2 linked regions of the Homo sapiens genome follow. The protein of the gene in region 1 purifies or fractionates together with the protein of each later gene. This does not show direct contact. Each region holds a gene or a part of one and is shown on either strand. Other genes may lie near its edges.

Evidence for each region.
Region 2: the proteins of NR5A1 (region 1) and SMARCA5 purify together in Homo sapiens (co-immunoprecipitation; one study listed by IntAct). This does not show direct contact.

What each region holds. Positions count from the first base shown.
Region 1 is NC_000009.12:124,490,307-124,494,120, reverse strand, and holds part of NR5A1 (steroidogenic factor 1), read left to right. Parts: intron 1-971; coding exon 972-1,091; intron 1,092-2,892; coding exon 2,893-3,040; intron 3,041-3,814. UniProt on the Homo sapiens protein: Transcriptional activator. Essential for sexual differentiation and formation of the primary steroidogenic tissues. Binds to the Ad4 site found in the promoter region of steroidogenic P450 genes such as CYP11A, CYP11B and CYP21B.
Region 2 is NC_000004.12:143,526,964-143,530,777, reverse strand, and holds part of SMARCA5 (SWI/SNF-related matrix-associated actin-dependent regulator of chromatin subfamily A member 5), read right to left. Parts: intron 2,911-3,814; coding exon 2,755-2,910; intron 2,196-2,754; coding exon 2,064-2,195; intron 321-2,063; coding exon 252-320; intron 1-251. UniProt on the Homo sapiens protein: ATPase that possesses intrinsic ATP-dependent nucleosome-remodeling activity.

The sequences.
Region 1 (3,814 bases):
AGAGGGATGGGGCTGTGTCTGCCCAGGCCCATCTGCAGTGCCCAGTGTGCTTCCAAATACCCAGAAGGGCTCGTTTTGTCACAGTGGAGATTGTGGACCGGGAATGCCAGCCGTGGCCCTGGCCTGGCCCTGCCTCTGTGTGATCCCGGGAGAGTCTCTTGCCCTTTCCGGGTGGCGGATTCCTCAGCTGAAAAATAGGGATTGGGGCCAGGGGATCCCTGGCTCTGCTTCTGAGTCCTGCAGAGTCAAAGGACACTCCAAACAGGGGCTGGCCCTGCCCCTGCACCGAGTGTCTCTGGCCGCAGCCTGGGCATTCGGAATCAGCCCCTTGTTGCTGTTCGTTTCTGCTTCATGTGCCAGGCCATTGCCGCCCCCCTGCTCATGCCCTGGGCCTGACCTCAGGCCAGGTGGGACCTCCCTCCTCCTCCTGAGCCTGAGAGCTCTGCGTAGGCCCGGGGGGGAAGCCCTTGGTTTCTCCCTCATGGCTCCTGTTTGAGCAGTTGGGGCTGCCAGAGGTGTGACCGACCACAGGCTTTTAAATGTGGACAAGGTTAAAATTAATAATAACCTTGCCAGGCATTTGTAGGAGTCCTTTGCAGAGCACCTGCATGGACATTAGTCACTAACATGTATGGCATACCTAACATGTACTGGACTGTCCGCTCAGTACTTTGCCCACTTTACAGATGAGAAAACTGAGGCACAGAAAGGTTACCAGGACTTACGTAAAGTCATACAAAAGACAGAGGTGGGGCCTGAAGCCTGGCCCATTCAACCCCCAAACATCCCTTTGTTAACTGGCCAGACCTCTGTTGCACTTTGATAGCCTAGACATCTGGGTAGATGGGCACAGAGAGGTTAGCTTGCCCAGGCTGCACGCCTAGTTGGGTCTCAGTGGGAGGAGAAGGGGTGAGAGGAAGGTCCCTGGACCCTGGCTGGAGCCCGGCCCCCCGCGTGCCTCTTCCTTCCAGGTGGCCGACCAGATGACGCTGCTGCAGAACTGCTGGAGCGAGCTGCTGGTGTTCGACCACATCTACCGCCAGGTCCAGCACGGCAAGGAGGGCAGCATCCTGCTGGTCACCGGGCAGGAGGTGACCAGTCCCTCGGCCCCGCCCCTGGGCCCCGCCCTGGCCCCGCTGTGCACTTCCAGGATTCAGGGCCCCGGAGAGGAGGACCCAGGCCTCTCGGGGCTGGCTCTGGGCACCCTAATTATCAGCCCTTTCCCCACGTTCATGGAACACCCACTGGCCCAAACCCTCTGTGAGCAGCCCTGGCCCAGGCTTGAGAGGCGCCGGCCCCTGGGAGCCCTGCTCTTGGGGAGCAGCTCAGGGGGTGTGGGCATGGTGAGGAGAGGCTCATGGAGGAGGAGGTGATGGTGGCCCTGGGTCTGGAAATAACACACTGGAGTTGGCTGGGGAATGAGGGATGAGGGGGGCAGTCCCCACGTCTACCGCAGGCTCAGAGAGGGTGGAAGTGTGGAGCCCCCGGGCCCTGCTGGTGCCGGTGTGGGGGTGGCATGAGGTGAGAGATGAGGGAGGCTAGGGGGTTGCTAGTGCTGGCTTAGCAGGCAAACCTTGCAGGCCCTAAATCTCGAATGAATGAATGAATGAATGAATGGGCAAAGGGCTCCAGAGAGCTCAGAGTCGGAATTTGGGCCCCCTTAGAGCAGGGAATGAGGATCTGGGGAGTAGAAAGTCCAGATGCAGCAGGGGTCCGGGGAGAGCTTTAGGAGGAGGAGGGACATGGCCAGGTGGTATCTGAGGAGGCAGGCGGAGGGGTCAGGATGGGAGGTGGGGGGCCAGGGTGGGGACACGGGGGCACAGCCACGGAGGAAGACTCACCTGGAGAGATGGGCTGTAGGGAAAGAGAGGGAGGGGGGGAGGCAGAGAAGGGGGTTGATGGCCAGGGTCCAGCCTGCTGGCAGGAGTGCCACTCTCAGGTGGGGACACAGGAAGGGCCGTGGGGTCGGTGGGTGCTGTGGGGTGGGGAAGACAGACTCTGCTCCCAGCTCCAGCCCTCCCAGGCCCCCACTGCTCATCTCCAGCTCTCTCCTCGGTGTCACAGGCCATCGGGGCAGGAGGACGGGACGGGCAGCACTGGTCCCAGGGGGGTGTCTTTGGGGCTCCCTGTGAGCGCAGGTGCCTGCAGTCTGCATGAAGTGTGGGTGTCCGCAGGCTGGCTGAGTCTCTGTGGCCATGGGAATGCCTGTTTGTGTGTGTGTGTGTGTGTGCCTGCCTGTGTTTTATTGTGCAAAATCTCCACACACATCAGTGTGTGGGTGTCACTGTCTTCCCATCAACCCGTAAATGTGATCACATACATGGGTGTATGTGTTGCCGTGAGTGTGAGCGTACAAGGGCGGGTGTGGCCGTGTGCACACGTGTGTGCCTTCACTTCACAGAGTGGGCGACCCCATGACTGTGCTCGTGTGTGTGTGTGTGTGACTCTGAGCTGAGCTGTGACCCAGCGTGTAGGTGTGAACATGGGGGCTCTGGGAAGCCATGTGGATGTGTCTGTGTGTCCCCACACAGGCCTGCCCTCCCCAACCCCTCCCCTCCCAGCATGTAGAGGGGCCCCCTGAGCTGCTGGTGCTGCTGGGCCTGGTGCTGGGGTTTGTGTGTGAAGGAGGGGTGGACGCGGGCAGAACGTGGGTGCCTCAGCTCCGGGCTTGGCGGGTTGAGGAGAGCTCGGAAGGGTGGGCCCGGCAGCGTCCCCGGGGCTGTGCAGATGTTACCCGTGCCTGGCTCGGCACCAAGGCTGGGCCCTCCTGACGCCAGCCCATCTGACCTGCACCTCCAATCCATGCCCTCAGCCCTGCATCCCCCATCAGAGAGCCACCTGCCCGGACCCACGTCCTCTGACTGTCCCCCGCCCCGTGCCCTCTGCCCCCAGGTGGAGCTGACCACAGTGGCCACCCAGGCGGGCTCGCTGCTGCACAGCCTGGTGTTGCGGGCGCAGGAGCTGGTGCTGCAGCTGCTTGCGCTGCAGCTGGACCGGCAGGAGTTTGTCTGCCTCAAGTTCATCATCCTCTTCAGCCTGGGTGAGTGCAGCTCCAGTGACAGAGAGGTGGAGACAGCCAGAGGCGGGTGGGTGGGAGGGTGGGTGAGGCTGGAGAGGTAGCCCTGCTGTGGCCAGAGTGGCCACGAAGGAGCCTCGGGGAGAAAGGACCCCTCCCTTACTCATTCAGTGAACAAAGGTCTGAGGGCCCCCGGCCAGGGCCTGGCTCTTAAATGGGGGCTGCTCCCGCTCTGGTGGCCCATGTGACTTTAGGATTTTTATTCCAGGCTCCCATCCTGGGGTCCCTGTTTTCTCTAATCCCTGGATCTAGGGGGCCCCAATTTTGACTGTACCTCCTGGGGGCCTGGACCCCTTTGCTCATGCACACGTGCATCCATTCATTGACTCTACAAACAGGCACCGAGAAATTGCACTGGAGAAGGCACTGGGAATACCGCTGTGAGCAAAAACCCCCCAAGCCCAGCCCTTGTGGTACTGACCTTCTCTAGGGGAGACAGATCATGAGCATAATATGATTAGTAAGACGTAGGTTCCTAACACGATTAGGCAGGCATAGCCAGGAAGGTTGTGACCAGTGCTAAGGAGGAAAAGAAAGCAGAGGAGAGGCAGAGAGCAGGCCTGGCCCAGCCCAGCCCGGCCACCCACCTCACTCCCCAAGCACTTGGGGGGTCTCCTTCCCGTTGCCCTCCTGACCCCAACCCTGCCTGGGCCACTCCAGTCTGCACCCTCACTCCCTGGAAAGCCATCACAAATGCCCTCCCCATGCCCAGAGATGCTGAGGACATAGCTGTCCCTT
Region 2 (3,814 bases), on another chromosome or scaffold:
CTGTATTTTGTATAACTGTAAGAGAATACTTTCTCCCTTAAGTCAGGATTCCATTCTAGGTTCTAACACTGAAACAACCACACATCACCCCCTACACTGATTGTAAGATGTAAGAGTTAAGTGTCAGAATTCAAGCAGATCTGATTCTTAAGCCATTGTGTTTTTTATTAACAGGAAAATAATCTACTAATTTAAACCTTTATCCTTTTTCCCATCATAAATATGCTTTAACACTACTCCAAAATACTTACCATATGAAGCCTCTCAACTAGTTTTTGATCCCCAAGGCAGTTGTTTGTATCAAACCAGGAATCAAAGTCCTAGATAAACAAACAAAAAATATACTCAGATCAGAGATAATATTAACAAATACCCTATAATACCAGATATAGAAATGATTTCTAGAATTAGTAATTTGAATTGTAACCCACAAAAAAAAATCACTTAGTCCAATCCTGGTTTTCATGTGTCATTGTTACTAATTTTAAAACAAGTAGTTCAGAAATCACACTACCTTCTAAACATTCTTCTCAAAAACATCAAAATAACAAGTTTCACAGTAAAAAGTTGGAGAGCAAGTTCTATAGGATTAGAAAATTAATATTCTTGTAAAGTATCTTTCAAGTTTCATAAAAGCTTGAAAATTAAAACATTTTATAGTTTGTTCTCTGAGACCATTCGCACTACTCAAATACAAGTTTACGAACAATGTCAATTTTAATCAAACTTACTAAATGAAATTGAAATTACCAGCATTTCATTAATATTTGGTTACGATTTCAACAAGGGCAGTTTCCCTAACCTCATCTCTTGAACATATGTATTATATATGTGCTTTGTTTTTGAGTAAACATAATCTTAGAATTCACTGCTTTAAAGTAAATGAAAGTGTCAATGTAGTGAGAAACAGGAATTATCTCAAAAACATCAAAATACATAAAATCGAAGCTAAAATTGCTTTTGGAGTCTGATTAAATATCTTTTTACAACACAATCTATTCTTTCAAAACAATCTTCAACAGAAAAAAAACAAAATTAATTAATACCTTTTTATAACTTAATTGTACAAAAATATACTAACATGGAGCTCTTCAAATCCCTCCAATACACATAAGACGCCAGCTATGCAAACAAAGCTTCAAAAATAAACACTGGTCCAGGCAAAAAAAACTGCAATTTCTAATAGCACAAACTCTTGACATAGTTATTATATTACTATTAACAGTTCAAATAGCTAATTAACCATTACTATCCTTTCTATGACTATAAATAATCCATAAAGATTAGGTTCTATTTGTTTGTTAGACTATAATATAAGAAAAGCCAGACAGATTTCACTAAATTTGACAGTCATCCTTGGGACTTAAAACATAAGCAATGTGAGGTATACAAATCACTTCAGGAATACCTTGAGCAGCACCTTAAAAACATAACCAGTCAACCTAGAGCCACTGAAACAAAGTCAGGCCAACCTGACTTACCAAATAGGAGTGACAATTTATGCCATTTCAGATAGAGAAAACAATGATTTAAAGAAGACTGAGGCCTGGTGTGGTGGCTCGTGCCTGTAATCCCAGCACTTTGGGAGGCTGAGGCAGGCAGATCGCTTGAGGCCAGGAGCTTGAGACCAGCCTGGACAACATGGCAAAACCTCATCTCTACAAAAAACACAGAAACTAGCCGGGCATGGTGGCACACACCTGTGATCTCAGCTATTCGGAAGGCTGAGGCACAAGAATCACCTGAATTCCGGAGGTGGAGGCTGCAGTGAGCCAAGATCACACCACTGCACTTCAGCATAGGTGACAGAGTGAGACTACGTCTCAAAAAAAATAAAATAATAATAATAATAATGAAATAAGATTGAAACCAAAGGCACAAAAGTAAATTCCCATTATACAGAGACAACCTAGGAGATAACACCAGGCTAACTATGTAAATAAAAGCATAAAAAATTAATAATAACCTCAAGCCATGCTAAAAGGCAGGCCACTTTTATTACAAAAATATATAGCATTAAGCAAAATATTATTATTAACCAGAAAGCACCAGGAAATACTTACATCTGCTGAATTAAACACATCTGGCAACAGAAAGTTAAGAAGTGACCACAGCTCATGCAAGTTGTTCTGAAGAGGTGTTCCAGTTAATAATAGTCTATTTGTAGTCTTGAATTCCCTCACTATTTCTGACAACTGAAAGAAAAGAACCAAATACACCATTAGAATATTCTGCATATTGCATTATCTACAACAGCAAAGACCTGGAACCAACACAAATGCCCAACAATGATAGACCGGTTAAAGAAAATATGGCACATATACATCAGCGAATAGTACGCAGCCATAAAAGAGAATGAGTTTATATCCTCTGCAAGGACATGGATGAAGCTGGAAGCCATCATTCTCAGTAAACTAACACAGGAACAGAAAACCAAACACTACATGTTCTCACTCATAAGTGGGAGTTGAACAATGAGAACACATGGACACAGGGAGGGGAACACCACATGCCAGGACCTGTCGGGGAGTGGGGAGAAAGCAGAGGGAGAGCATTAGGACAAATACCTAATGCATGCGGGGCTTAAAACCTAGATGATGGGGTGCAGCAAACCACCATGGCACATGCATACCTATGTTAACAAACCTGCACGTTCTGCACATGTATCTCATAACTTAAAGTTAAAAGAAAAAAAAATCTGTACTTTAATCAAATTCTTACATGAAGGCTTTTCACATCTAAGTATCAAATTACCTTAGATTTTTCATTTTTGATCCTGTGAGCTTCATCTATTACTAAGTATCTCCAATTAAATTTTTTGAACACAGACTTCTCTTTAATAAGCATTTCATAAGATGTTACACATACATCCCATTCTCCCGGTAATAAAACGTCTCTGACAAAAGCAGCCTGTGTAACAAGAGAAAAAAATTACATCACGTAGAAATAAACTACGCATTACATTTACTGATGACAAGTAATCTAGTATATAAAAAGAGGTGGGAATACTAAAAAGGAGTAGAGTAGCTAGCTATATTATGCAAACGTTTAGAACCAGCTTTCCTAAGACTAAAGTAACGTCATTAATCATTTAAATGTCAGAACCATTAAGTTTTAAAAAACTGACAAAGTTAACCAGTGAAAAATTCAATAGACACTTAAAATGTCTTTCTGCAATTCCACTAGATCGGGAAATTCTTAGGAGGCAGGTTTAGACAAAAAAGAGGGAGGTTTTAACATAAAGAAAGGAAGAGGGTGGAAAGATAGTTAGCAGTAGTAGGCATCTGCATTCCTTTCAGGTTTATAAATGTATTAACACATTCCTAATAGTATTATTTTAAAGGTAAGGAAACTGAAGCAAAGACTGGTTAAGTAATTACCACTCTTTGGGCTCCCAAACAAACAAACAAAAATTGATAACTTAAAATATCCAACATAACTAGAAAGGGAGAGAAAAATATAGACTTATCACTCACAGGTAAATGAAGAGGAAATAAAAAACAAGTACACAGCTATTCAGTAGAGTCTGAATAAATTTCCAAATCTGAGCTTTATATACTAATGTCATTATTTCCATCTCTTCTTCCCACAAGGATGTTGTCAACTGATCGAAATTTTAACTTATTTTGTTAAATATCATAATAAATCACCAAATTACTATATATGACTCAACCCGTCTTTAAAAACTCTAATTCTGTGACTATTACCACTACACACATTCATCTAAAAATGTGGCTCCTTAAATTTCCAACCAACTCACATTTCAAAATATCTTTTAAAAACAAGAAAATAACTTCTAATGAGAGCACAACCA